7 linked regions of the Homo sapiens genome follow. The protein of the gene in region 7 interacts with the protein of the main gene of each other region in a pairwise test. Each region holds a gene or a part of one and is shown on either strand. Other genes may lie near its edges. The genes, in order: ARHGAP9, SHTN1, THAP10, ISY1-RAB43, ZNF343, PROSER3 and NME7.

Region 1 (3,304 bases), on a different chromosome or scaffold from region 7:
ATCTCCCATTTCTTTGTGAAGGCCAAGATCCTCCCTGCCCCCCCTCCCCCCTTTTCCTGCTCCACATAAACATCTTCCTCTTTCTGAATATCCTCCTACCCAGCCCTCCCCCAGCAACTTTAAGGGACTTCACTCCTGGGAGACCCCCTAGGGAAAGCCGTGGCCACTATGGAGGGCGAGGGTGACTTACAGATCCCATTCCCTCCACTTCCCAGGAGGTGGAAAAGTCGGGTCTGCTCAACATGACCAAGATTGCCCAAGGGGGGCGCAAGCTCAGGTGAGAACCCAGAATACAGCTAGGGCCTGGGCTGTCAACTCCATAGGGTAGAGCAGGGTGTTGGAAGAGCACCCTCCTCGTGTCATTCTAGAATGACCTGTTCGCTACCACTACCTCCCCTCTCTGTCCCCGCAGGAAGAACTGGGGCCCGTCTTGGGTGGTGTTAACGGGTAACAGCCTGGTGTTCTACCGAGAGCCACCGCCGACAGCGCCCTCCTCAGGCTGGGTGAGTGTGAGCGAGAGGCGCAGGATGGGTGCGGGCGCTGCCTACCGCCTCACGCCAATGTGGGGGCGGCAGCGGGGAGGGCGGTGCAGAGGAAAGTAAAGAAGTGAGGAAGCCTCCCACCTCCTCACAGCCCACCGGGGAGAGGGAAGCAGTGAAGGAAACAACACCGTGGCCTCAGTTTCCTCCCTCATTGTCAGGGACCAGCGGGTAGCCGGCCCGAAAGTAGCGTGGACCTGCGCGGGGCGGCCCTGGCGCACGGCCGCCACCTGTCCAGCCGCCGCAACGTCCTGCACGTGAGCGCCCTCCCGCGCGTCCCCAAGGCCCCACCCGACCCGAGGGCGCCCCCAATCTCCCGCGCAGGCCTCCCGCTAGGTCTCCCTGCTTATTATACTCCTTCCCGTTGACCCGAGCGTTTCCTTGCCTGGCCCTCAGATCCGCACGATCCCTGGCCACGAGTTCCTGCTGCAGTCGGACCACGAGACAGAGCTGCGAGCCTGGCACCGCGCGCTGCGGACTGTCATCGAGCGGCTGGTTAGATGGGTGGAGGCCCGGAGGGAGGCTCCGACCGGCCGGGACCAAGGGAGTGGGGTAGGAACGATAGGAGTCAGGAGCAGTTGGGGGCAGGGTGGGCTCAGTGGAGAGCCCTTGCCTGGGCCGGGATGTGGGACCCCGGCAGTGGGTCAGAGTCCAGCTAGGGATACAGATTTCTCTCCTCTCTCACCTTCGACACGGCCCGCCCCGGGTCTAGGATCGGGAGAACCCCCTGGAGCTGCGTCTGTCGGGCTCTGGACCCGCGGAGCTGAGCGCCGGGGAGGACGAAGAAGAGGAGTCGGAGCTGGTGTCCAAGCCGCTGCTGCGCCTCAGCAGCCGCCGGAGCTCCAGTGAGGCGCGGGCTGGGGAGGGAGAGTCCGGGAGCGCAGCGAGGCTCCCGGGCGCTCACGCCCCGCTCTACCTGCCTCCTGCAGTTCGGGGGCCCGAAGGCACCGAGCAGAACCGCGTGCGCAACAAACTAAAGCGGCTCATCGCGAAGAGACCGCCCTTACAAAGCCTGCAGGAGCGGGGTCTGCTCCGAGGTGAGGGGGCTGGGCCAGGTTCATGGATAAGAAAACTCCAGCGAGGCTCAGAGTAGAGCTTCCCAGAACTAGACCACAACCTTCTGTGACTGCTGCTTTCCCACTACCCCAGATTGTTTAGGGGAGAAGCTGGGGTGACCTGTACCCCTTTGCCAGATTGTTTGAAGCAGGGGAAGGGAGGTGGAGTGTATTTCCTTGCCCAGGCCTGGCACAGGCAGCCAGGAGGACCAGCCTCACTTAAGGATAAAGACCTATGCTGAGAAGAGCTCCTGTGAGTGACGCTGGCACTGGCTTCCCGCCTCACTCTACTTCCCCAGACCAGGTGTTCGGCTGCCAGTTGGAATCACTCTGCCAGCGGGAAGGAGACACGGTGCCCAGCTTTTTGCGGCTCTGCATTGCTGCTGTGGATAAAAGAGGTCATTTTCTCAGAGACCCCAGAATCCTCTTCCAACAGGCTAAGGCCTAGAATTTTCTGCCTCCCCCATTCTACCTAGTCTTCCTACTGCCCTTTTTCTCTCCACCCTTATATCCCTCACCACACACACTTTCAAGCAGCAGTCCTTATCTACTCCTTCCTCATCTCCCAGGTCTAGATGTGGATGGCATTTATCGGGTGAGCGGGAACTTGGCAGTGGTCCAGAAGCTTCGCTTTCTGGTGGACAGAGGTGAGAAGGCTTGTGGGCCAGTGGTTGTACTAAGAATGTCTTGCCTGAGAACCATGGGCGGTCCTACATGAGGAAGCTGGCAGAATAGAGAGGCCGTCAGGCTGGAAGTGTATGTCTTAGCTCCTGATCTCTCCTCATTCATGTTGCAGAGCGTGCGGTCACCTCCGATGGGAGGTATGTGTTCCCAGAACAGCCAGGACAAGGTACTTACATGGAAGACCCTTCAGATCCCTAAAACTTCCACATATCCTCTTTGCTTCCCGTGGAAACCCCCATGTACTATTCCTGGGAGGGTTGTCCTCATCCCCACCTTAGCTACCTTGCCCCACTGCAGACCCTCTAGGCATTCCTATAGTCTGCTTTGACTGGATTTCTCCAGAACTTCTAATCTCTCAGTCTCTAAATCTTTCTGGCCCTTCATGAGCCCCTATACCTCCTTCTCCCTCCAGAAGGTCGGTTAGATTTGGACAGTACTGAGTGGGATGACATTCATGTGGTCACCGGAGCCCTGAAGCTTTTTCTCCGGGAGCTGCCCCAGCCTCTGGTGCCACCACTGCTGCTGCCCCATTTCCGTGCTGCCCTTGGTAAGGGTTGGAGCTTTGGAAAGAACCCTTGATGTGGGGGACACGGGTGGTAAATAATAGAATAGAGGTTCCCTTATACTCTTCTTTCCCATTCTGACTTTAGAGATGGAAAATAATGTTCAACTCAGGTGCCTACTCCAGTTGCTTTTTTGTGAATGTTTAGAGGGCTGAATTGAAAAGAATTATGAGGCTATAGTTGGGCTATGTGAAAAAGAAAGCTGTGCTAGATTAATGATGTCTTCCATGCCTGTGGGAAAGAGCAGTGCATTTACCCATCCTGTCCTAGCACCTTCCCTAACCTTACTACCATGCCTTTCCCATCACTCTCTCTAGCACTCTCCGAATCAGAGCAGTGCCTCTCTCAGATACAAGAATTAATAGGCTCAATGCCAAAGCCCAACCATGACACTCTACGGTACCTCCTGGAGCATTTATGCAGGTCAGGAAGACAGAACCTCTTTGTTCATGCTGGGGAAAGG
Region 2 (4,255 bases), on a different chromosome or scaffold from region 7:
TTTCCTTCAAAAACTGCAAATACTAGAGTCTTTGATTTTAACCAGATTCAGCTTCCTAAATCTGTAACTCAGAAACTTTTTGCTCTTTTGAAGAGATTTCTGGAAATGTATCGTATTCCTTCAAGTCTTTCATGAGGAAGGCATTTTACTAAGCACCAATGATGTGAAAGTGCCTATGAATGGTGCTACAGGAGACGTAACACCTGACTTCAAAGAACTGAACTTAAGTTGATATCACAGGTGCTAATACCTATGAGATAATGGGTAAAAGGTGCTGCATACTGTTGGCACTCAGAGGTAGCTCTCCCCATCCACAGCCATTCCACTTTCCCCGACTGAGTGTACCCTCAGGGATCTGTCCATTTGTATTTACCCTCAACACTTAAATAGGCAGTGTGGGCTATGCTCTCCAAAACTGAGAATCCTCTAGTCTTTTTATGTGCATGCACCTATCCCTCCAAGGGGAATCTGAGTTCTCTGAAGACAAAAAGCATGGTTTCTTTTCTTCTGTATTTCTTATTGTTTCCTAGGATAGGGCTGGGTACACACACAGCAGATAATAAGTATTAATAGAAGGCATTCAGATTTGAACCTTATATATTTCCAGTGTCTGCCTCCTCTATTCATAATAAAGATGGCTTTGGCTACAGGCTACTCTGATATTCACTAAAAAGAATGAAATACTTCTTAATTTTGGATCAATTAAAAAATAAATTATAATCAATTTTCATTGTGGATTAGAAAGCACTGAATGCTTTTAGAAGGAAAAAAGGCCTACATGGTTCTTCTGCATAGGTTTCAAAATTCTAGTATAAAATTAACCAAAAATATCTGAAGTGAATATTGAAGCTATTATAAAGGGAATGTACCTGACTTCTTAAATTACCGACCTTCCAACAGAGACTTACACATATGCCCGTATAGTAATCTAACTCGCACATTCCCGTTAAGCCTTCTAGAACTGAATGAATAAATCTTTTGATTTAAGTATCCCCTGGTGTTTCTAAAGATTTTCCATTTAATAGATATATTGTTGCCCAGTTCATTGTTAGGTACAATATAGAAAGTATTATTTCATGTGTATTATTAGACACCAAAGATGAAGGTAGTATGAACACCAAAGATGAAGACAGTATTTTTAAAAAGTTTAATTCTTTCTAAAAATGCACTCTAAGTGAACAAAATAAAGTACATAATGAACATTCATCTCTGAAGCTCTGAAAAATGCTGAAAAGTTGGTCTTCCTAGGCTAACGGTATCTCTGTGTCTAAATTCTGTATATGATGTTCACAAGGGCTCTAAGTCCAAAAAATTAGTCTAAATATTTTTGAATTATTTAATACAGCAGCTATTCTACTGAATTGCAATGGTTAGAAATTAAGGAATTTCAAAACAAATCTTGGTATTTTTCCACAGCATTCAGTAAATGTTCTAGACTAACTATATGCCAGGTTTTGTACTAGGCATGAGTAATTCAAAGATTAATAGTAAGACATAGTAGCCTACTCAATGCTTTTACCAGAGTGCTTTAAATTTCTGGCTTTCTCTTCAGAATTCTGATATTTCAATTCCAATTCCTTTTTATCTTCCTCTAGAAGCTCCAGTTGCTGTTTGAGGTTGTGTATTTCTTTGTGGAGTGTTTCATTTTCTAGTTGCTCTTCTAATTCTTTGACCTATAAGTTATTTAAAAAAAAAAGACTTTTATGGCTGACAGTTTTTCCTTTGTCAAAGAAAAGAAAGGGAAAAAATAAATATTTCCCTTTGACTGTACTTCATAGCAAACAGATTCCAATCCATCTTAACAACCATGCAAATGCTAGATACAATTAACACACAATCATAAATCAGCTAAAGAGCTGATTTAAAATAAATTTACTGGGGAGTTACGTACCAGACACTTTAATTTTTTTTAAGTTTTATTTTAGGTTCGGGGTACATGTGCATGGTTGTTATATAGGTAAATTGTGTGTCACAGGGGCTTGGTGTACAGGTTGTTTCATCACCAAGGTAAAAAGAATAGTACCTGATAGATACTTTTTCGATCCTCTCTCTCCTCCCACCCTCCATCATCAAGTAAGCCCCAGTGTCTGTTGTTCCCTTCTTTGTGTCCGTGTGTAATCAATGCTTAGCTCCCACTTAGAAGTGAGAACATTTGGTTTTCTATTCCCATGTTAGTTCACTTAGGATTATGGCCTCCAGTTCCATTCATGTTGCTACAAAGGACATTATCTCATTCCTTTTTATGGCTACACCGTATTCCATGGTGTAATATGTACCAGATTTTCTTTATCCAGTCTACCACGGATGGGCATTGAGGTTGACTCCATGACTTTGCTGTTGCATATAGTGCTGCGATGAATATGTGTGCACGTGTCTTTATGGTAGAATGATTTATATTCCTTTGGGCATATATCCAATAATGGGACTGTTGGGTTGAATGGTATTTCTGTGTTAAGTTCTTTGAGAAATCGCCACACTGCCTTCCATAATGGCTGAACTAACTTACATTCCCACCAGCAGTGTTTAAGCGTCCCATTTCTCTGAAACCTTGCCAACATCTGCTATTTTTTGACTTTTTAGTAACAGCTATTCTGACTGACATGAGATGGTATCTCATTGTGGTTTTGATTTTCATTTCTCTAATGATTAGTGATGTTAAGCATTTTTTATATGCTTGTTAGTCACACAGACACTTTAATTTTTAAACATGGGTCACTTTTGTACCCATTTTCAAAAGAAAAATTCAGGTAATATTTTAAAAGACTCCTGGGGGACACAAATTTAGTAATAAGTATCAAAAGTCTTCAAAAAAAAAAAAAAAGGAAAGGCTTTCGATTCAGTAAAACCATTTTTAGAAATTATTTTTTAAAATACTCTGAAATATATTCACTGAAGTGGTTTTTTGTTTTGTTTCGTTTTTGTTTTTGTTTTTGTTCTGAGATAGAGTCTCACTCTTTCGGCCAGGCTGGAGTGCAGTGGCGCGATCTGGGCTCACTGCAAACTTCGCCTCCTGGGTTCAAACAATTCTTGTGCTTCAGCCTCCTGAGTAGCTGGGGCTACAGGCACATGTCACCACACCCGGCTAATTTTTGTATTTTTAGTAGAGACAGGGTTTCACCACATTGGCCAGGCTGGTTTCGAACTCCTGGCCTTAAGTGATCCACCTGCTTTGGCCTCCCAAGGTGCTGAGATTACAGGCGTGAGCCACCACACCTGGCCTGAAGTATTCTTTACAACAGCAAAAAGTTGCAAATAACCTAAATGTCCACCAATATTTTTAGTTTAATAAATTATAGCATGTTTATTCAATGAAATACTATGCAACTTTTAAATCACATAGCTTACTATATACTGACATGAGAAGATATATTACCAATGGAAAAAAAATCAAGGCATAAAATAGTATGCATAGTATGATTCAATTTAAACAAACTATATTTATAAAGGTATATATTTACAGAAAGTTCAGCTATGCACCAAAATATGGGATACTTGGTTAATCTTCTTTAACTTTTGCTGTATTTTAAAAATGTATTATAAGGAGCATATGCTATTTTTATAATTGCAAAAACCATATGCTGTGCTTAAAAGACTGCTGCATCTGCAAGGGAACTTACAGACAGCTAAGAAACATTTTAAGCGACATACAGATGGTCCCCAATTTAGGATGGTTTGAGATAGTTTTTCGACTTTACAATGGTGTGAAAGCGACATGCATTCAATACAAACCATACTTCAAATTCTGGATTTTGATCTTTTCCCAGGCTCGCAATATGTAATAAGATACTCTCTCAACAATCCTCTGCAGCGGCAGCCAGCCACAGCTCCCAATCAGTCACATGATCATGCGAGTAAATAACTGATACTCTAGAGCAGGGTTCCCCAACCCCCAGGTCTTGGACTGGTACTGGTCCATGGCCTGTTAGGAACCAGGCTGCACAGAAGGTTAGCAGCAGGCACGAGCAAGCATTACCGCCTGAGCTCCACCTCGTCAGATCAGCAGCGGCAACAGACTGTCACAGAACCGCGAACCCTATTGTGAACTGCACACGCGAGGGATCCAGGTTGGCCGCTCTTTATGATAATCTAATGCCTGATGATCTGAGGTGGTACAGTTTCATCCCAAAACCATCCCCCACCCTCTTCCCTCCCCAGTCCATGGAAAAATTGTCTTCCACGAAACTGGTCCCTAGTGCCAAAAAGATTGGGGATTGATGCTCTAGAGTATACTGTATTTCCAGTTGACTCTGCCCAA
Region 3 (3,500 bases), on a different chromosome or scaffold from region 7:
TACAAGTTTCAACAAATTTCAAAAAATTAAGTCCATATATTGCATTTTCTCTGGCAGTAGTGTAATTGACCTAGAAATCTATTGCAAAAATTTAACTAAAAAATGCCCAGAGATACGGGAATTAAAAAATATACTTCTAATTAACCCACGAATAAAAGATAAAATCACAATGGAAATTAGATATTTTATACTAAATAATAAAAATACTGCATACCTAAAACTTGTAAGATTCAGTAAAGCCATGTTAGGTGGGGACTTATAATCTTTAATGCATATATTAGGATAGGAAAATTAATTGGGCTTAATTTAGGTTAGAATTATTAATATCATGCAAAAGGTATTCCACAAAATATCTCTAACATAGCCCCCTCTCAGGACCCAGATTTTCCTCTATCAACACCACTTTACTGAATTCTACATTTGTGAAATAAGCTTGTGAAACTTAGCTGCACCATTTAACATTCACCATAAAAATTCTGAAAATCAATGATATAATTTAACTTCTTAAGAAGTTAAAGACAGAGCAGTGGACAAAATTTTAAAAAGCAGAGGAAGGGAATAATGAATAAGTGAAATAAATGAAAAAAAAATTCTAGAGAGATCAACAAGGCAAAGTTTGTTCTTTGGAAAGACTAATAAAAATTGATAAACCGGTGGGGTGCGGTGGCTCACGCCTGTAATCCCAGCACTTTGGGAGGCTAAGGCAGGTGGGTCACGAGGTCAGGAGTTCAAGACCAGCCTGGCCAAGATGGTGAAACCCCATCACTACTAAAAATACAAAAATTAGCTGGGTGCGGTGGCAGGCACCTGTAATCCCAGCTACTCGGGAGGCTGAGACAGGAGAATCGCTTGAACCCGGGTGGCAGAGGTTGTAGTGAGCTGAGATTGCGCCACTGCACTCCAGCCTGTGTGACAGAGTGAGCCTCTGTCTAAAAAAGAAAAAAAAAAATCGATAAACCATCTGGTGAAGCTGATCAAGAAAAAATGAAAAAGCAAAAATTACCTCAGCTCAAACAGAATTTTTTTCAAATACAAGATTATCATGAAGGTTTTGTGTCAATACATTTAAAAATTTAGATGGAACAGACAAATTAAAAAATACTATTAATCAAAATGGATAAACAAAATACTATTTATCAAAATGGATAAACAAAAGAACTCTGAATAACCTTATAACAAAGAAATTGAATCCATCATAAAAAACCTTTCCAAAAGGAAAACTCCTGTCTTATCAATGAGTTCTACCAAATATTAATACCAAATTTATTAATGGATATATGCCATTTTATATAAACATTTCCAGAGAATGAAAAAAGAAGGAACAATTCCAAATCTGTTGGCATAATCTTCATACCAAACCTGAGAAAGGCATTCCAAGAAAGAAAAAAACTGTAGAACAGTTTCACTCGTGCACACAGATACAAAAATCCTAAATATTTTATTTTAGCTAATATTTTATTAAGCAATATGAGAAAGGAATAAAACACTTTGACCAAATTGAGTTTATTTTAGCCATGCAAGTTTGACTCTACATTTTAAAACCAATCAATATAATTTACTATATTAACATAATAAAAATGTTATCCTTAATAGATTCAGAACAACCATTTGATAAAATTCACCATTATTTATAATCTAAACTAGAAATAAAGGGGAACATTTCTTTTTATTACAAAGAGAGCTATAAAAAACTATAGTAAAAATCATAATCAAATGGGGAAATATTAAAGGCTTTCCCTCTGAAATTAGGAATGAGAAAAGGATTCCCCTCACCTCTTCTGTTCCCACACTGTACTGGACATTCAAGCCAGTGCAACAGGAAGAATACGAAATAAAAACACGAATATCAAACGCTTTTCTCAGATGATATTTTTGTACATGTATAAAATTCAAGAGAATTTATAAACTATTGAAATTAATAAGTGAGTTTAACAAGGTTTTTGGATACAAGTTCAACAAAAATTAATTTATCAATATGCACTTATAGATTATAAAATTTAAAATACCATTTATAGTAGCAAAATCAAATAGCTGTGAATAAATCTAATGAAAGATATGTAAGACCTCTACATCAAATGCCACAAAACACTTCTAAGAAAAATTTAAAAACCCAAATAAATGGAGATATATGTTCATGGATTAGAAGAGTCAATATTGTCAATATGCCATTTATTCCCATATTCATTTATGAATTCCATGGAGTCATAATCAAAATCCTCGTGAGTAACTTGTGAAAATTGACAAATCAATTCTGAAATGTATCTAGAAATCTAAAGAGCCCAACATAGTCAAAATATCCACAAACATGAACAAGGTAAGAGGTATTAATCAATTGAATATTCTTAATAAAGCTATATAAGACACTGTGATACTTTTGCTTAGGCAAACAGATAAGTGAAACAGAATAAAGTATGTGGAAACAGACCTATGCATATAAAGGGCACTTGATTTATGACAAAGTTGACATTGCAAGGCCAAGAAGAAATGCTAGTAGTTTCAATAAAAGATGCTGAGTCAAATGGGTATCAATGTTGGGGAAAATGAAACTTAAATCCTACCTCACACCAAACACAAAAATCAATTCTGAATTAGATCTAAATATAAAAAGTAAAAACAACAAAGTTTATTACAAACAGCATAGTAAAATGTTTTAAGTATTAAGAATAAGGAAAATTATTGGTAATTTGGACTACATCAGAATTAAGAACTTCAGTACATCAAAAGACATTATTAAGAACCAAGAGGCAACCCATAGTGGGAGAAGATAAAAACATTTAACTGAAAAAGGACTTCCAGGTAGAATCTATTAAAAATTCTAAATCAACAAGAAAAGACAGACAATCCAACAGAAAAATGGGCTAGATTTAAAAGGGCATGTCACTGAAGGCTACCTAAATATCCAATTAATATTTGAAAAGGTGTTTCCTTACTAATTTCATCAGTAATCGGGGGATGAAAAGCAAAAACATTACTACGCACTCTGCAAATGGACTCAGATGTGAAAGACTAGAAATCCCACGTATAGGCAAGAATGTGGAACAATGGAAACTATCAAACTTGTGGTAGAAGTGTAAATTGGTACAAGTATTTTAGAAAACTATTTGGTATTATCTACTGAAGTTTAATGTAATACTATGACCCAGCAATTCTAGGTATATATCCTCAGAAATGTGTGCACACGTGGACCAAAACACATATACAAGAGTTTATGGTAGTATCACTTATGATAGCCCCAATGGGTAAAAACCCAAATGTTCAACAATAGACAGACAAATTTTGGTATATTCATACAATGGAATACTACATAATAATGAAAATGAACTACTGTTCTATGCAACAATATGGATGAATCTCAAAAATGTAATGTTGAACAAAAGAAGCCAGACACAGAAAATGGCTACAGTATGATTTGATTTATATGAAATCCCCCCCCCAAAAAAAAGCAAACTTGGTTACCTTTGAGGAGAGGGGAGGGGCTGGATATGGGGTGATATAGGGAC
Region 4 (4,255 bases), on a different chromosome or scaffold from region 7:
GGACTCTGCCCATTGCCACCACCAGTCACCCTTCCCACAGTCCTCATCACCAAGCTGTAGAGTCCTGAGGGAACCCTAATGCTGGAGGAGCCTCACACACAGCTGGGTACGTGATGCTCTTGTAGGGGAGGGTACCTGGCCGTGCCTACTGCTGGCCGTGCAGTGCACCTGGAGCCAGCTTTCCAGCCGCCGGCCGCTTGAGCACTGGTGGTTCTGTTTTCGCAGCAGTGGGCCCAGTCCTGAGGGGAGAGGGGCACACGGAGGGGCACGCGGAGGACCTGGGTCAGCTCAGAGTGTACCCCTTCCTCCATCTTTCCCTGGGGACCCTAGAGGGCCAGGACAGGGGCTGCTCACCTTCCCTTTGCTTCCCCATTTTTCCAACAAGGTTGAGCCATTGAGTTGCTTTCTAAGGACTCAGAAGGCCTCCTAGCCCAGTGGAACCACAGCTCTGGGTGTGGGTCTGTGGGGTCACTCTGCCTGTCCCCATGTTCAGCCTGTGCCACTGGGTTCACTGAGGAACCTTATTTCTTTAGCTGCAGATCTGGGACACGGCCGGCCAGGAGCGGTTCCGCACCATCACCCAGAGCTACTACCGCAGTGCCAATGGGGCCATCCTTGCCTACGACATCACCAAGAGGAGCTCCTTCCTGTCGGTGCCTCACTGGATTGAGGATGTGAGGAAGTATGCGGGCTCCAACATTGTGCAGCTGCTGATCGGTGAGTTGGGGATTCCTCGGGACCACAAATCCCATCACTCTGCCTGTCCATGCCTCCCTCTGCTTTTTAAACACAGTGTAACCCTGAGTTCAGAGGGAGTCCCAGCCAGAGTTTGAGCCATGGTTTTGCAAATCCTGATCCTGCTAATCACTTAGAAAGTTACATTCAAGGCCGGGCACGGTGGCTCACGCCTGTAGTCCCAGCACTTTGGGAGGCTGAGGCGGGCGGATCACAAGGTCAGGAGATCGAGATCATCCTGGCTAACACAGTGAAACCTCGTCTCTACTAAAAAAATAAAAAAAAATTAGCCGGTTGTGGTGGCAGGCGCCTGTAGTCCCAGCTGCTGGGGAGGCTGAGGCAGGAGAATGGCATGAACCTGGGAGGCGGAGCTTGCAGTGAGCTGAGATCACGCCACTGCACTCCAACCTGGGTGACAGAGCAAGATTCGTCTCAAAAAAAAAAAAAAAAAAAAAAAAAAAAGAAAGTTATATTCAAAATTGGAATTAGAGGAAAGAAGAAAGAGAGCTGAAGTTTGCTCTGCTGTTCTTCACATGTGTCAAGATTTAGCTCTTGTACCCCGGCTTCTCCTCATTTGACAGGGGCTGGGGCTAGGCTCAGAAAAGTGCAGTGATTTATCCGGGTCCACATGGCCTGTGAGCATACACATGTAGGCTTTGAGTTTGCTTCTGCTGACCTCAAGTCTGTGGCTTTCTCTGTTGTGCCGCACACAGAGCAGGGACACTTGATGGCTTCCGTGCCTCAGAATCCCACAGAAGTCTTCTTCAAGTGCAGCTGCAGGGCCTCAACCTCCAGAGCATCTGATCCAGGCGGGCTGGGTGGGGCCCATGAATGTGCGTTTCTAACAAATTCCCAAGTGACACCCACCTTGCTGGTCCAAGGATCCCACTTTGAGAACTGCTGCTGTGGAAGGATGCTGTTTACCTTTGTTTTCCTTCTATATAACCTTCCCAGACCTGGACTGGAGAAGCTCTTTAGCTCTTATGTTATCCCTGGGGTCCTCACCCCAACAGGTTGATTCTTTTTTTTGAGACAGAGTCTTACTCAGTCACCCAGGCTGGAGTGCCGTGGCGTGATCTTGGTTCTGCAAGATCTGCAAAACCACTGCAACCTCTGTCTCCCTGGTTCAAGCGATTCTCCTGCTTCAGCCTCCCGAGTAGCTGGGCCAACAGGTTGATTCTTCTGACTCAAATGTACAGACAGGGCCTGGACCTGACTCCAGCCAGGAAGAGGGTGGTGCCTGGTTCCATGTGGCCTGCCTTCCACAGCCTGTTCAGACTAGGACATGGAGTGCTTGGCATGAACAGAGCTTTCCTCACGTAGCCTAACCATTTCCCCACCTTTTCTTGCTGGGGGTGGGGGACGGAGTCTCGCTCTGTCGCCAGGCTGGAGTGCAGTGGCACGATCTTGGCTTACTGCAACCTCCGCCTCCCGGGTTCAAGCAATTCTCCTGCCTCAGCCTCCTGAGTAGCTGGGACTACAGGCACGCACCACCACACCTGGCTAACTTTTGTATTTTTAGTAGAGACTGGGTTTCACCATGTTGGCCAGGATGGTCTCGATCTCCTGACCTCGTGATCCACCCGTCTCGACCTCTAAAAGTGCTGGGATTACAGGTGTGAGCCACCACACCCAGCCACCAATTCCCATTTATCCAGGACATTTCTGAAAAACATTCCAGCCTGGCATGGTGGCTCACACCTGTAATCCTAACACTGAGAGGCTGAGGTGGGTGGATTGCCTGAGTTCAGGAGTTCAAGACCAGCCTGGGCAACATGGTGAAACCCCATCTCTACTAAAAATACAAAAATTAGCCAGGCATGGTGGCACACACCTGTAATCCCAGCTACTGCGGAGGCCAAGGTAGGAGAATCGCTTGAACCTGGGAGGCGGAGATTGTAGTGAGCCGAGATCGTGCCACTGTCCTCCAGCCTATGCGACAGAGTAAGACTCTGTCTTCCAAAAAATAATTAATTAAAAAACATTCTATTATAGAACTTTTTTTTTTTTTTGAGACAGAGTCTCACCCTGTCGCCCAGACTGGAGTGCAGTGGCGCGATCTCGGCTCATGGCAAGCTCTGCCTCCTGGGTTCACACCATTCTCCTGCCTCAGCCTCCCGAGTAGCTGGGACCACAGGCGCCCGCCACCATGCCTGGCTAATTTTTTGTATTTTTAGTAGAGACGGGGTTTCACCATGTTAGCCAGGATGGTCTCGATTTCCTGACCTCGTGATCCACCCGCCTCAGCCTCCCAAAGTGCTGGGATTACAGGCGTGAGCCACCGCGCCCGGCCTATAGAACATTTTATACAGCTATGAAAATAGTATTTTATCTATTTATTTATGCATACTTATATACATACATATATTTTTAGAGATGCAGTCCTGCTATGTTGCCCAGGCTGATCTTGAACTCCTGGCCTCAAGCAATCCTCCTGCCTCAACCTCCAAGTAGTTGGAATTACAGGTGTGAGCCACTATATCTGGCTTAGAATAGTATAATAATGAGCCCCCAGGTACCCATTACCCTGCTTCAGCAATTAGCAACTGAAGTCCAACCTCCTCTCATCTGTACCATGTCACCTCCCCTCCCTCGGATTATTGAGACAAATTCACATCAAACCATTTCACCTGGCAGTATTCCAGCATGAACCTACAAAATATTTAAACACTTAAAAACAGCAATATTATTTTCTCATCTAAAAATACTGACATTTCCTTAATAATATAAAATAGCCAGTCTGTATTCAGATTTATAATTGCCCATAAAATTCATATGTGTTTTATTTTTTCCAGTTTGTTGAGATCAGGATCCAAATAAGTTTCACACTTTGAAACTGGTTGCTACATCAATTAAGGTTACCAAGGAAATTTTAGATCTTTACAGACTTTTTTTTTTTTTTTTTTTTTATGACGGAGTTTCGCTCTTGTTGCCCAGGCTGGAGTACAGTGGCACAATCTCGGCTCACTGCAACCTCCGCTTGCCACTCCTGCCTCAGGCACCCGAGTAGCTGGGATTACAGGCCCCCGCCACCACGCCTAGCTAATTTTTTGTATTTTTTTTAAGTAGAGACGGGGTTTCATCATGTTGGCCAGGCTGGTCTTGAACTTCCAACCTCAGGTGATCCACCCACCTCGGCCTTCCCAAATGCTGGGATTACAAGCATGAGCCACTGCGCTTGGCCCAGACTCTTTTTTTTTTTGTCTTCCTTATAACCACATTACAAAAGTCAACCATGTAGAGACTTTTAAAAAATTATTCTAGAAATTGGGTCAAGGAGCAATTTAACAGATTGTTTGGAATGTAATGAAGTCATCTCATACCATCTAGGAGGATCTGGGTAAATTGAGACGGGGTCTCACTGTGTTGCCCAGGCTGGTCTTGAATTCCTGGGCTCAAGCAGTCTTCCTGCCTTAGCTTCCCAAAGTGTTGGGATTACAGGCGTGAGCCACTGCACCCGGCCTAAAAAAGGTTTTTTAAAGAAAGACAGATGACCATGCCAGGGGTGTCCATTTATAGT
Region 5 (4,255 bases), on a different chromosome or scaffold from region 7:
TAAAAATGTGGTTACTAGGAAATTTAAACTTACCTATGTGGCTCACATTATATTTCTACTAGACAGCACTGATCTAGAACAAGGAGTGGAAAATGACTACCCACAAGCTAAATCCAGTCCTCTGTTTTTGTATCACCTACAAGCTAAGAATGGTTTTTACATTTTTAAATGGCTAGAAAAAAGTAAAAAGAGTAGTAATATTTCATGATACATAAACATTATATTAAATTCAAATTTCAGTGTCTATAAAGAAAGTTTTATTGGAACATATCAATGCTCATCCGTTCACATACTGTTTATGGCTGCAACTCAATGGCAAGTTAAGGGTTGTTACAGAGGGCTTATCACCTGTAAAAACAGTTATTGTTTGGCCCTTTACAGAAAAAGTTGGCCAACCCCTGATCTAGAGTTATGTTGCAATTGATAACATTTATCAACCCAGATTTAAATATTTTTTTATTTTTTTTTATTTTTTCAGACTGAGTTTCACTCTGTCACCAGGCTGGAGTGCAACGGCACAATCTCGGCTCACTGCAACCTCTGACTCCCTGGTTCAAGTGATTCTCCTGCCTCAGGCTCCCAAGTAGCTGAGATTACAGGCACATGCCACCATGCTCAGCTAATTTTTGTATTTTTAGTAGAGATGGGATTTCACTATGTTGGCCAGGATGGTCTCGATCTCCTGACCTCGTTTAGGTTTGTAAACAAATGAAAAAGAAAAAAACATAGTTTATGAAACCCCCAAACCACAATAAACTTGACTCTTAATTTTAACTTATGTCACAGAGCTGCATCTCTCCCCCTTGCAAACCATGCCCCCAGCCTTGCTTGCCTCCTTGCAGCTTCATATACTGGGCAGGTACATCCCTTCATTAAGGTCTTCGTGTCAATAATTCCCTTCACCTGAAATGCTCTTACACTAGATACCTACAGTTCTAACCTCCTCACCACATTATGTCTTTAGACAAATATTACTTCTTCACTGATTTCAAATACCCAGTTTTAAACTTCAGCCAGCCACCCTATCACACCCAATACCCCTTTATCCTGCCTTATTTCATTATTTTTTACTATGTTGCACTTATCACCTTTTAACATACCATATTATAATATCCCTGTATATGAGGCTTTTTGTTTGTTGTCTGTCTCCTTACACTAGAAAGTAAGCCCCATGGAGGCAGGGATTACGATTTTGTTTACTAATGTGTTGTAAGTATCTAGAACATTTTTTTGTGGTACATATTAGGTGATCAGTAAATCTCTACTGAATTAATGAAGGAAAGGAAAGAACACAGCCTTACCCAATGAGAGAAGATTCCTGTAATTCTCCAGCATCACTTCTTTGTATAGATTCCTCTGCTCTGGACTCAGTCTCTTCCATTCTGCTTCTGTGAAGATCACAGTCACATCCCTGAATGTAACTGGTACCTACAAACAACCAGTAAATTAATGTATAGCAAGCCACCATCAATCTTCCCTGTGTGTGGAGCACAGCTGGTGACCCTGGAGAGCCTGGATATGCAAGTTGATGTAATTCGTCAGAATATATGGTTCTCCATATGAAGTTCTTCTGAGCACTACTGTCTGCCTGGCTTTCTGTTAAAACCTGTGAGGAGCATAACTGAGCACAGAACACATTCTAGGCCCTTGACATATATGATTTCACCGGAGAAATGATTTGTGAATTAATTTGTAAACCTCAGGCTGTGTTTAAGACAGTGACTTTGAGGATTCATAATGAAGGAATTCAGAGATGAAACAGCAGAGAATGGGCTGCAGAAGGAACAAAAGCATCATGGACTTGGGGCTTGTGCTGGGCAGTAGGGAGTGGTAAAGATTTAGAGGAGAGAATGGAAGAAAACTTGGATTACAGAGAAAAATGGGAGTGAACAGATGGGGTCTGGAATGAGCATTTTTTAAAAGCTCAGGTTACTAAATGGGATCTGTAAAATCCCTGTCTTTGCTATGTGCTTTGACAACTTTTTTCAAGAAAGCCTAATGCTTCACTCATCTACCCAGATGTTGACCGCCTTTTCCTTTCCCAAGAAAGAGAATATATGTCTATTCTCTGGAAAATGAGCCAGCACTTCAGGAAAAAAAAAAAATGTAACCCCAACTCACCACTATTTGGGCCTTTCCCTCCTTTTTCTGGGGGCAGTCAGTATCATTAGAAGGCAAGCCTAGGGAAAGAAAAAGAAGCTATGAGAAACCAGACCCCCCCACCCCCCACCCCCCACCATGACGCTCCCTGAGCAGCTCTTCTGAGCCTTAGGATGAAGGAAGTAGTCACTTAACTCAGAGGTGACCTCTGAAGCATTTTCAGGTGAACCTGGAGCCTTGGCTTCCTCTTCATCCCTCCGGCTCCCTCAACAATTCTCACCTTTCGCTTTATGATTTTGGGTCAATTTCTTCATAGTCTCTACATTTTCCCCATTCTTTGGAAGCAAAATCTCTTCCCAGTATTGATCTCCCAGTGCTGAAGGATAAGGCAACATCATGGCGCCAGAGTCAGCCCAGTGTGTGCCTTGAAATTCTGCCAGAGGTCCAGGTAGATGTTATTTCATCTCAAGATGGAGTTCTGCTGCCTGTGGTGACTTCTTCCAACCTTAATTATAAAAAGCCCAGCTTGTTTCCCTGCAGCCAGGACCTGTGGGATGAAGAAGCAATTTGCTATTGCTGGGGCTTTTATTGTGGGCCCTAGGCCTATGCCTCTTCAACAGGGATCCTGTCCTCTCACACCCTCCTCATTCAACAAACACGGAGTCTCCATCTACATGGGATCCCTGGATTTTCTACCTTCATTCACTCTACCTTCATTTCTAGGCCCTCCTGCTTGTGTTCTGCCACTCTCCCTTAGCTCTCAAACTTTACTTCTTCTGCCTCTGCACCTCAGATTCAAACTCTATGTTTTGGATCAGTCTCTGCTACTACCTGAAGCCTGAGTCAGAGAGAAGACAGAATATAGCATAATGCCTGTGGAGAAAGAGCCTCTGACTGTTTCCTGTAGACCAACTGGGGCGTGCAGAACTCAGCTTCTGATTCCCCTGCCCCAACCCAAGGTTCCATCTATATTCAGTTCCTTGTGTCTTGGATGGGCACAGTGGTTCACACCTGTAATCTCAGTACTTTGGGAGGCCACGGCAAGCTAATCACTTAAGCTCAGGAGCTCAAGACCAGTCTGGGCAACATAGCGAAATGCCGTCTCTACAAAAAATACAAAAATCAGCTGGGCATGGTGGTGTGCGCCTGTAGTCCCAGCTACTCAGCAGGCTGAGGTGGGAGGATCACCTGACCTCGGGAAGTCGAGGCTGCAGTGAGCTGAGATCATGCCATTGCACTCTAGCCTGGACGGCAGGAGTAAGACCCTGTCTCAAGAAAAAAAAAAAAAATCCCTATGTCCCTGTATTGTGAGGAGTTTAGGAGATCAAAACTCAGTCCTTCTTAGTTAAGGGAGAGCTCCAGTTCTCACAATTACTCTGAAGAGATAACCTCCTAGCTTCCATTGCTATGCATGTCTACCACATGACCTTACCACAGATGTGCATTTGTGTATCCTGATGGGCCCAAGTCAAAGTCCTACACTGATGTGGTCCCAAAGAAGGCAGGTGGTATTAGGAGCTATGCCACCTTCAAAAGCTCCTCAGACGCTGTCCAGGATTTCAGCCCAAATGGCTACAGGCCTATTGTTGCCTAGTACCCTTCTGAGACTAGCTGGGGTCTCTAAGCAGCTCTTGTAATTCATCCCTCAACACCATAGGTAGAGATGACCACTCCCTCTTCTGTCCAACCTGGCCATCATACCATATTGCAATTTCTCTATTTACGTGACTGTCTTTACTAAACTGTGAAGCTTCTTGTAAGATGAAATGCTTCTCAGTCTTTTTGCTAATATAATTCTAGTGATTAGAATAAAAGAGGCCTTTGTGGTAGATTTTATCATCGTTCCCAATTATTTGTTGCCCTATAAAAGGATGGTACTTCCCTGTCCCAGACATCAGGCTTGACCTTGTAACTTGCCTTGGAAAATGAATGTGAGTGAAAGCGACGATGCCATTTCTAAGCATTGCATAATTCCACCATTTCTTTTGTTCTGAGAACAGCATGTCCGAAGAGGGACTGTGGTTCTACTGTAAAAAGTCATGGTACAAAGCTAAAGCCAACCTATAGTACCTGCAGTATAACGTAGCTGAAGCTGACAAAGCCTTTCTCCTAGTAACACTAGTATCTGTAGCTAACAGTTATAAAGCAAGATCTG
Region 6 (4,255 bases), on a different chromosome or scaffold from region 7:
AAACAAGATAGAATTTATTCCTCCCTCACCTGCAGTCCAGGCAGAAGCCACCAGGGATGATGTGGCAACCCGTAGTTGAGGTGTCAGGGACACAGGTTACTTCTGTCTTGTTGCTGTCCGAACTCTAGGCCGTTGCCCTTTCCTTCATGGTGCAAAATGGCTTTCAACCACATCAGCTTTCCAAAATCACATTTCATACCCTGTTTGTCAAGAACTTAGTCACGTGGTCACAAGGCTACAAGGGTACCTGGTAAATATAGTCCATAGGAGACTGGCTGTGTGCCCAGCTAAAAGTTACATTCCTGGCTGGGCACAGTGACTCATTCCTGTAATCCCAGCACTTTGGGAAGCCAAAGTGGCAGGATCCCTTAAGCCCAGGAGTTCCTGACCAGCCTGGGCAACATGGCAAGACCCCGTTTCTACTAAAAATACAAAAATTGGCAGGGCTGCAGTGGCTCACGCCTGTAATTCCAGCACTTTGGGAGGCCAAAGTGGGTGGATCACCTGAGATCAGGAGTTTGAGACCAGCCTGACCAACATGGTGAAACTCCGTCTCTACCAAATTAGCCGGGCGTGGTGGTGCATGCCTGTAATCCCAGTGACTTGGGAGGCTGAGGCAGAAGAATCACTTGAACCAGGAGGCAGAGGTTGCAGTGAGCCAAGATCACGCCATTGCACTCTAACCTGGGCAACAAGAGCAAAACTCCGTCTCAAAAAATAAACTAATTAATTACAAATAAATAAATAAATAAAAATACAAAAAGTAGCCGAGTGTGGTGGCATGCACCTGTGTCCCAGCTACCCAGGAGGCTGAGGAGAGAGGATTTCTTGAGCCCAGGAGTTGGGGGCTGCAGTGAGCTATGATTGCACCACTGCCCTCCAGCCTGGGTGACAGAGCGAGACCCTGTCTCAAAAACAGTTATGTGACTATATAAGAAAGAAAAGCAGATATTGAGGGATAGCTACCAGGCTCTGCCATGGTGCTTGGTAAACGTTGGCTGCTATAATTATTCTTATTATTATTTGGCTCTCCTCACTCCACTCACCTCCTATCCCCTGATGTTCACAGGTATATAAACAGGTTCCGCCAGGCTCAGCCCACCAGTCGAGAGGAGCGCCAGCCTGCAGGCCCAACCCCAGCTGACTTTTGGTGGCTGCAGTCTGACTCTCCAGACCCCAGCAGTCAAAGTGCAGCAGGTACCTCTTTCAGTGCCATCCACTACTCCCACCCCTAAACCTTTGCTGATCAATGCCCCCAGCAGCCACTCCTCCTGGCCCTCATACCTCAACTGGGGCTTCTCAGCAGGAGCCAACAAACCAGAAGGAAGACCCCATACAGCTGTCCCTACTGCGGTCAACGTGACCAGTGCATCCCATGCTGTGGCTCCCCTTCAGGAAATAAAGCAGGTGACATCCCCATTCACTCCCTCCCTTGGGTGCCTGAACTGACAACACCAGCCCTAGGACAGAATTAGAAGATCAGGAGCAGTGGCTCACACCTGTAATCCCAGCACTTTGGGAGGCCAAGGTGAGAGGACTGCTTGAGGCCAGGAGTTCAAGACCAGCTTGGGTGACATGGTGAGATTCTGCCTCTACTAAAAAAAAAAAAAAAAAGAGAGAGAGAGAGAGAACCAGGTGTGGTGGTATGTACCTGTAATCCCAGCTACTTGAGAGCCTGAGGCTGGAGGATGGCTTGAGCCTAGGAGTTCAAGGCTGCTGTGAGCTATGATCATGCCACTGCACTCCAGCCTGGGCAGTAGAGCAAGACCCTGTCTCTATTTAAAAAAAAAAAAAAAAAAAAAGCCTGGGCACCGTGGCTCATGCCTATAATCCCAGCACTTTGGTAGGCTGAGGCAGGCAGATCACGAGGTCAGGAGTTCAGGACCAGCCTGACCAACATGGTGAAACCCCGTCTCTACTAAAAATACAAAAATTAGCCGGGCGTGGTGGTACACACCTGTAATCCCAGCTACTCAGGAGCCTGAGGCAGGAGAATTGCTTGAACCCGGGAGACGGAGGTTGCAGTGAGCCAAGATAGCGCCAGCGCACTCCAGCCTGGCGACAGCAAGACTCCATCTCAAAAAAAAAAAAAAAAGAATTAGAGCTGATCCCCATTTCAAGGAAGCTAAAACAGAAAAGGAGGATTTGCTGGCTAATGTAATTGAGAAATCCAAAAGTAGATGTTTCCAGATATGCCTGGATCCAGGTGTTTGAATAATGTTGGGAGAGACCCAACTCTCTCTGGGCTCCATGCCCCCCCTTTTTTTTTTGATACAGAGTCTTGCTCTGTCACCCAGGCTGGGGTACAGTGGCGCCATCTCAGCTCACTGCAACCTCCGCCTCTCGGGGTCAAGCAATTCTTCTGCCTCAGCCTCCTGAGTAGCTGGGACTACAGGTGCATGCCACCACACCCAGCTAATTTTTTTGTATTTTTTTAGTAGAGATGGGATTTCACCGTGTTGCCCAGGCTTGTCTCGAACTCCTGACCTCCGGCAATCCGCCCACCTCAGCCTCCCAAAGTGCTAGGATTATAGGCGTGAACCACCAAGCCCGGCCTTTTTTTTTTTTTTTTGAGACGGAGTCTTGTGCTGTCATCCAGGCTGGAGTGCAGTGGCGCGATCTCGGCTCACTGCAAACCCCGCCTCCCAGGTTCACGCCATTCTCCTGCCTCAGCCTCCCGAGTAGCTGGGACTACAGGTGCCTGCCACCACGCCCGGCTAATTTTTTTTTGTATTTTTAGTAGAGATGGGGTTTCACCATGTTAGCCAGGATGGTCTCCATCTCCTGACCTTGTGATCCACCCACCTCGGCCTCCCAAAGTGCTAGGATTACAGGCATGAGCCACCGCGCCCGGCCTTCTTTTTTTTTTTTTTTAATTAGATAGGGTCTTACTCTTAGGCTGGAGTGCAGTGGCACAATCATGGCTCACTGCAGCCTTGAACTCTTTGCAACCTTCGCCTCCTGAGTACCTGGGACTACAGCATGCGCCACCATGCCCAGCTAATTTTTTGGTTTTTTTGTAGAGATGGGATCTTACTTTGTTGTCGAGGCTGGTCTCGAAGTCCTGGGCTCAAGCAATCTTCCTGCCTCGGCCTCCTAAAGTGCTGGGATTGCAGGCGTGAGCCACCACGCCCGCCTCTGTGCTTCTCTTTTTTTGGGCTCAGTCCCAGGCGGGCTTTCCCCTCACAATAGCCAGGATGGTCCTTGGGGTCTCTAGGCTCCCATGGTCCTGGCTCAGTGACTCCAGTGGGAAGTGGGGGCTTTTCGAATTGCTCCATCAGAAGCCCCAGGGCTCACTGTGATTCACTCATCCTTGAGCCAACCACTGTGAACCAGAGGATAGAATGCTCTGATGAAGCAGCTCTGATCTGGGAGGTGGGATCCATCCTCCTCCAACCATGATTTGTCCATGAAAGGTGCTAATCCACCGGGCGCGGTGGCTCACGCCTGTAATCCCAGCACTTTAGGAGACTGAGGTGGGCGGATCACCTGAGGTCGCGAGTTTGAGACCAGCCTGACCAACATGGAGAAGCCCTGTCTCTACTAAAAATACAAAATTAGCCGAGCGTGGTGGCGCATGCCTGTAATCCCAGGTACTTGGGAGGCTGAGGCAGGAGAATTGCTTGAACCCAGGAGATGGAGGTTGCTGTGAGCCGAGATCGTGCCATTGCACTCCAGCCTGGGCAACAAGTGAAATTCAATCTCAAAAAAAAAAAGAAAAAAAAAAAGGTGCTAATCCAAAGGGGAAAACTGGGTCTCTCCTCCCTGAGGAGGAGGAGCAGATCCTAAGCTGGCATGTGAGGTTACCAAGGGCAGTACAACCTGCATTCCAGGCCCTCTGTTTAGAACCCCCTTCCCAGCAGCCTTTGGGTTGGGGCTGGCGTCTGACCCTGTCACCCTGCAGAACCTCCACACATGGAACTCATCCCTGCTGGACCTGGAGACGCTGAGCCTACAGAGCAGAGCTGCCAGGCTGCTCAAACGCAGGTGCCCGCACCCCTGCCCCCATCACCCTTCCTACTGCGGCTCCACGTGGCCCAGGTCTCGAGACCTCCATTGCCTCACTCCTGCCTTCTCCCTGCAGCAAAGCCTCCATCTCCTCCTCCTCCTCCCTCAGCCCCAGCGATGCCAGCACTTCCTCATTCCCCACCAGCTCTGATGGCCTCTCTCCCTTCTCGGAGACCTTCATCCCTGACTCCAGCAAGGGCCTTGGCCCCAGGGCACCCGGTAAGGGCTGAGAGGCAAAGACTGAGGG
Region 7 (4,255 bases):
ACATAAATTTATTCATTCATATATTTAACAAACTTTTGTGGGTCACACTCTGTGAATAATTTACTGTTTGAGGTATCACTACAACAGTTTTTAGGGATACAGTTATGAATAAGATACATCAGTCTCCCTGTATCATAATTTCTTTATATGGTTTCTTTTTTTTTTCCTTTTTACAACACTCACATTGTCATTTTTCAATTGATCCGTTGGTCAACATCTATTAGATATAAATATATATATATATATCTGTTAACAAAACTTGACAATAGGCAGCATTAGTTACAAACAATCTAGGCAAAAACCTCCTGGTCAACTAGATCAAAGATCATCATTTGAAAACAGGGAGAAAGTGGAAAAAGGAAAGAATAGATCATAGATTTTAAATTGTGATTCATTAATTCGTTCAGCTAATACAGACAAGGTGCTTGCAATGTGGATGGAGATGTGCTAAGTGCCACAGGAGACATAAACATGAATTAAGTCAGATGAGACATGCACAACTATGGTATTATCAATTTTTTTTTAAATTGAAAAAAAGAAAAAGAATGAAGACAACCATTTTCCAGGTCCTATCCATCCTCATATGGTTACATACTCCCAGTCTTGATTCAGATTGACTTTGAACCCAAAGTTAGAGCATGTAAAAAGATTATATAATTGTTTTCTTACTTTTCTTTCCTACTGCCCAGCTGGCGAGCTGTATATTGATCCCCATAGTCAATTAATACCAGTTGTCGAGAAAAGACATTCACTTTGTTGCCTATAAATAAATCTTCCAAGTGCAGGTTATCATATTTGGTCCGCTTTAAAAAGGTGCGATGATTCTTTACATCATGCTAGAACCAGACACAACAATATAACAAACAAACAAAAAAAGTTATGAATAAGGAAAGTTAATCTCATCATAAGGTAGAAATAATTCTTAATTCTGTCTTATCAAAGATAGGTTATATTCTGTTTCTTTTTTGTTACAAATATAAATCATAATTTTTAATAACTTCCATATTTCCTAATCCAATCTGGTAATAACATAAAAGCTTCTTATTACAAATTTAATACTCTTAAAAACCTGAATAGAAAGATTTGTTTATTACCAAATCATTTCAGCAAAGTAGTCCTTACAAAATGCTAAAGAAAGAGTCATACACCCAAATTTCTGCTTTCTTGTGTACACAAAATCCCAATACCAAAAAGATCTACTTGTTAAAATTGTGTTGCCAGTGAAAGAACACAAAGAAACAGAAGTCTCTTAGCTTGAGCCTCTTCAATTTGACTTTTTGTAGCAATAACAGCTTTCAATAATGAGGACGTATTTATGACCATAATAATCCTTATCTATAATCACTTGTTTATTTCTTATCCAAAACATGAATAATCCCATTTCAGTCTTTTTTTTTTTTTTTTTTTTTTTTTTGAGACAAGAGTCTCATGCAGTCGCCCAGGCAGGACAGGCAGGAGTGCAGTGGCGTGATCTCAGCTCACTGCCACCTCCACCTCCTGAGTTCAAGCTATTCTCCTGCCTCAGCCTCCCGAGTAGCTGGGATTACAGGCATGTGCCACCACACCCGGCTAATTTTTTGTATCTTTAGTAGAGATGGGTTTTCACCATGTTGGCCAGGCTAGTCTCGAACTCCTGACTTCAAGTAATCTGCCTGGGTCGGCCTCCCAAAGTGCTGGGATTACAGGCATGAGGCACCGCGCCCAGCCCCCACTTCAGTCTTCTAACAACAACAACAAAAAATTCCTATTTTTGACATTAAAAATAAAGGCACAAGTTAACTTCTTATATTGGAATTATAATGAATAAGTTTAAAAAGAATTTCCATATGTATATATACACACACACATACATATAAATGTGTTTTTAAAAAGCAATTATATAAAAGGCAATGGTTCCCATGTTCACCCCCTTTGCCAACATTCAAGCAAAGAAAGGCTTATTTACCATTTCAACAGATCCATCCCCTGGGTAAAATAAAAGCTCATAACGTCGAAGAAGTGAAGCATTTGGATCATACCACTCTGCAATGAAAACGAATCTTTCACTATGATTCTGCAAAGAAAGACAGAAGAATTTTAACACTAACATATAAAGAACAAGCACTCTTCTGTAAGTCACACAAAATGAAATTACCAATATGCAAGAAACAAAATTACTTCTACCTATTATATTGAATGTTTCTGCTTTTCAACAAAGTATCAGTTATCAACACACCCTCAGCAATATTTCCTTTCAATTTCTCACTAAATACCCTTAGATATCTCAAAGATGACTTATGGATTGCTTTTTACTTTACAGCCATCTAATCATCCTGAGTAAATTAACGTTTTCTGAGAACATGAGCTCCTGATTTTACTATTGTAACAATTCAGTCCTTCTGAAAGCAAGTTTACATACAGACTATCAATAAACTAATATAAGAATAAATTTCTGAGGAGAGCTCTCAATTATATGAAGTTTTGACTTCCCTAAATTTGAGAATCTAGTAGTATCAGAATATTACCATTAAAATTATAGCAAACATTTTTTTTTCCTTAGTAATTTCATATGATAGTATCTTTTTATAGAAATAGAGAATGTGTTAGTCTAGGACCTCTGAAAATGAATGTGAAGACAAGATTGAACATACAAGAATTTCATTAAGGAAAATTCCCGTAATATAAAATGATGAGGGAGCCAAGGAAGACTAGAAAAGCCGATAAAAACAATAGAAGTTTGACACAGAGTGGTGGAGAGATGCAAGGAAGGTTAAGTGGAATCATCCCACATTGCTACACCCTCTAAGAAAGGTTCTGTAAGCCCATCAGGAAGTGCTAGAGCCAGGTGACTCCCAAGGACAGGGAGGGGCCAGCTTTAGTATCCCTGCTCCTCTCAATCAGTGGCTGGGAGCAGCCTTTGGGAAGCAAGTGCTCAGCACAAAAGCAGCAGTGGATTTCAGAGAACAGCAGCTGGGACCCTTGGTCACTTAGGTTGCCTGTAGTTGGAGGTCTGTGAAGTACACTCTTAGGGCTACCACAGAGAGCAAAAAATGAAAAAAATAAGTCAAAGATGGGTCCTTTTCCCTTGACTATTGAGCAGGACTTCCCATCATATATGTTAGTAAAAATACCCTCGCCCCAAAGATCTTCATTATAATAAGCAAATAAAAGCATAGGGAAGAAGGGAATCTAGGAGTTTTATTGCTAATTCTGGATTTGCCATCTGATGCTCTGGTTAGGGAAAATTTGGGGGTTCTTTTTAAGTTAATAATTGACTTATAAATTCTAATGGTAGAAGTTGTGTGTCTAATGATGTTTATAATATATCCATAAACTATAACGTAGATGACACTTTTATTTTTAAGACACTTTTATTTTTCCCACAATCATCCAAAGACATATTTAAACCATGCTGATTACTCAAGAGAAAATAAATGTAAAATAAGAGACATACTATGACATTTGTAAAAGCCTTTCATCATATATATTTTTCATATTGATTATAACAATACAGCTTTTTTGAGTTTAGGTTTCACTGTGCATTCTAGTATTGTACTCACCTACAAATAAAAATTTAAATATTAGTAGATTATTAAAATTTTTACTATCCATAATAAAATATTTATTTAAATACATAATTGAAATGTTGCCTTCACTAAAATAAATATAAAATAGAAGAAATGACACATCTAACTAAAGCAAATGAAAAATCCACGAAACCTGGTACTTCCATTTATCCATGTAGCCTATCCACCAAACCTGCCAACCACACTCTTTAATTCTGAATTGGGCAGCAGAATTTTGCACTATACTCTATCCAGAAAAGAGTTTTAATACAAAGAAAATAAACTGAGGAACTGTTGCTTCTGGCTATGACAAAGTAGCTCACAGCAAACCAATGCTACTTCTAAGAACAACTAGAAAAGTAGGATATCAAAGATTTGGAGAGCTTTTAAGGCAGCCAGGATCTGAGGATCCAAGATCCAGAAAGACAGGAAGCCCATTGAAGTGAAACCAACATTCATTGCGTTGTCTTTACTCGTAAGACATGTGCTGAGTCTCAAGTCAAGCAGACAAGTGACTGAGAAGCCTAAGAAGCTGGTAGAGGGAGCCCACCAAGGGACAGAGAAACAGGTACAAAAGTGAGCTGAAACCTGTGCTTGTTCAGTAGAGCTTTTGGAAACGAACTCCCAAGCTAGTGCTGTTTCCTCTGTGGGAAAAGGTTTATTACTCCAAGTACAAATTATATTCAAACTTGATTTAAACTTAACTTTCT

Evidence for each region.
Region 1: the proteins of NME7 (region 7) and ARHGAP9 interact in binary tests that used the Homo sapiens proteins (3 or more experiments, as listed by UniProt).
Region 2: the proteins of NME7 (region 7) and SHTN1 interact in binary tests that used the Homo sapiens proteins (3 or more experiments, as listed by UniProt).
Region 3: the proteins of NME7 (region 7) and THAP10 interact in binary tests that used the Homo sapiens proteins (3 or more experiments, as listed by UniProt).
Region 4: the proteins of NME7 (region 7) and ISY1-RAB43 interact in binary tests that used the Homo sapiens proteins (3 or more experiments, as listed by UniProt).
Region 5: the proteins of NME7 (region 7) and ZNF343 interact in binary tests that used the Homo sapiens proteins (3 or more experiments, as listed by UniProt).
Region 6: the proteins of NME7 (region 7) and PROSER3 interact in binary tests that used the Homo sapiens proteins (3 or more experiments, as listed by UniProt).

The regions. Positions count from the first base shown.
Region 1 is NC_000012.12:57,473,563-57,476,866, reverse strand, and holds part of ARHGAP9 (rho GTPase-activating protein 9), read left to right. Parts: exon of another isoform or gene 1-215; coding exon 216-277; intron 278-412; coding exon 413-503; intron 504-700; coding exon 701-796; intron 797-935; coding exon 936-1,034; coding exon of another isoform or gene 1,035-1,091; intron 1,092-1,251; coding exon 1,252-1,384; intron 1,385-1,468; coding exon 1,469-1,576; intron 1,577-1,893; coding exon 1,894-1,992; intron 1,993-2,163; coding exon 2,164-2,241; intron 2,242-2,390; coding exon 2,391-2,444; intron 2,445-2,690; coding exon 2,691-2,825; intron 2,826-3,158; coding exon 3,159-3,264; intron 3,265-3,304. UniProt on the Homo sapiens protein: GTPase activator for the Rho-type GTPases by converting them to an inactive GDP-bound state. Has a substantial GAP activity toward CDC42 and RAC1 and less toward RHOA. Has a role in regulating adhesion of hematopoietic cells to the extracellular matrix.
Region 2 is NC_000010.11:116,928,330-116,932,584, forward strand, and holds part of SHTN1 (shootin-1), read right to left. Parts: intron 1,674-4,255; coding exon 1,520-1,673; intron 1-1,519. UniProt on the Homo sapiens protein: Involved in the generation of internal asymmetric signals required for neuronal polarization and neurite outgrowth.
Region 3 is NC_000015.10:70,885,934-70,889,433, forward strand, and holds part of THAP10 (THAP domain-containing protein 10), read right to left. Parts: intron 1-3,500.
Region 4 is NC_000003.12:129,091,448-129,095,702, reverse strand, and holds part of ISY1-RAB43 (ISY1-RAB43 protein), read left to right. Parts: intron 1-533; coding exon 534-678; coding exon of another isoform or gene 679-717; intron 718-3,109; coding exon of another isoform or gene 3,110-3,189; exon of another isoform or gene 3,190-3,203; intron 3,204-4,255. Other genes in the region: RAB43 (ras-related protein Rab-43), read left to right, coding at 534-717. UniProt on the Homo sapiens protein: Component of the spliceosome C complex required for the selective processing of microRNAs during embryonic stem cell differentiation. Required for the biogenesis of all miRNAs from the pri-miR-17-92 primary transcript except miR-92a.
Region 5 is NC_000020.11:2,491,398-2,495,652, forward strand, and holds part of ZNF343 (zinc finger protein 343), read right to left. Parts: intron 4,128-4,255; exon of another isoform or gene 4,018-4,127; intron 2,648-4,017; 5' UTR 2,499-2,647; coding exon 2,381-2,498; exon of another isoform or gene 2,354-2,380; coding exon of another isoform or gene 2,296-2,353; intron 2,181-2,295; coding exon 2,122-2,180; intron 1,429-2,121; coding exon 1,302-1,428; intron 688-1,301; coding exon of another isoform or gene 635-687; exon of another isoform or gene 452-634; intron 1-451. UniProt on the Homo sapiens protein: May be involved in transcriptional regulation.
Region 6 is NC_000019.10:35,760,950-35,765,204, forward strand, and holds part of PROSER3 (proline and serine-rich protein 3), read left to right. Parts: intron 1-1,069; coding exon 1,070-1,197; intron 1,198-1,303; coding exon 1,304-1,407; intron 1,408-3,904; coding exon 3,905-3,987; intron 3,988-4,084; coding exon 4,085-4,227; coding exon of another isoform or gene 4,228-4,238; exon of another isoform or gene 4,239-4,255.
Region 7 is NC_000001.11:169,322,448-169,326,702, forward strand, and holds part of NME7 (nucleoside diphosphate kinase homolog 7), read right to left. Parts: intron 2,054-4,255; coding exon 1,946-2,053; intron 837-1,945; coding exon 670-836; intron 1-669. UniProt on the Homo sapiens protein: Possesses an intrinsic kinase activity. Displays 3'-5' exonuclease activity with a preference for single-stranded DNA. Does not seem to have nucleoside diphosphate kinase activity.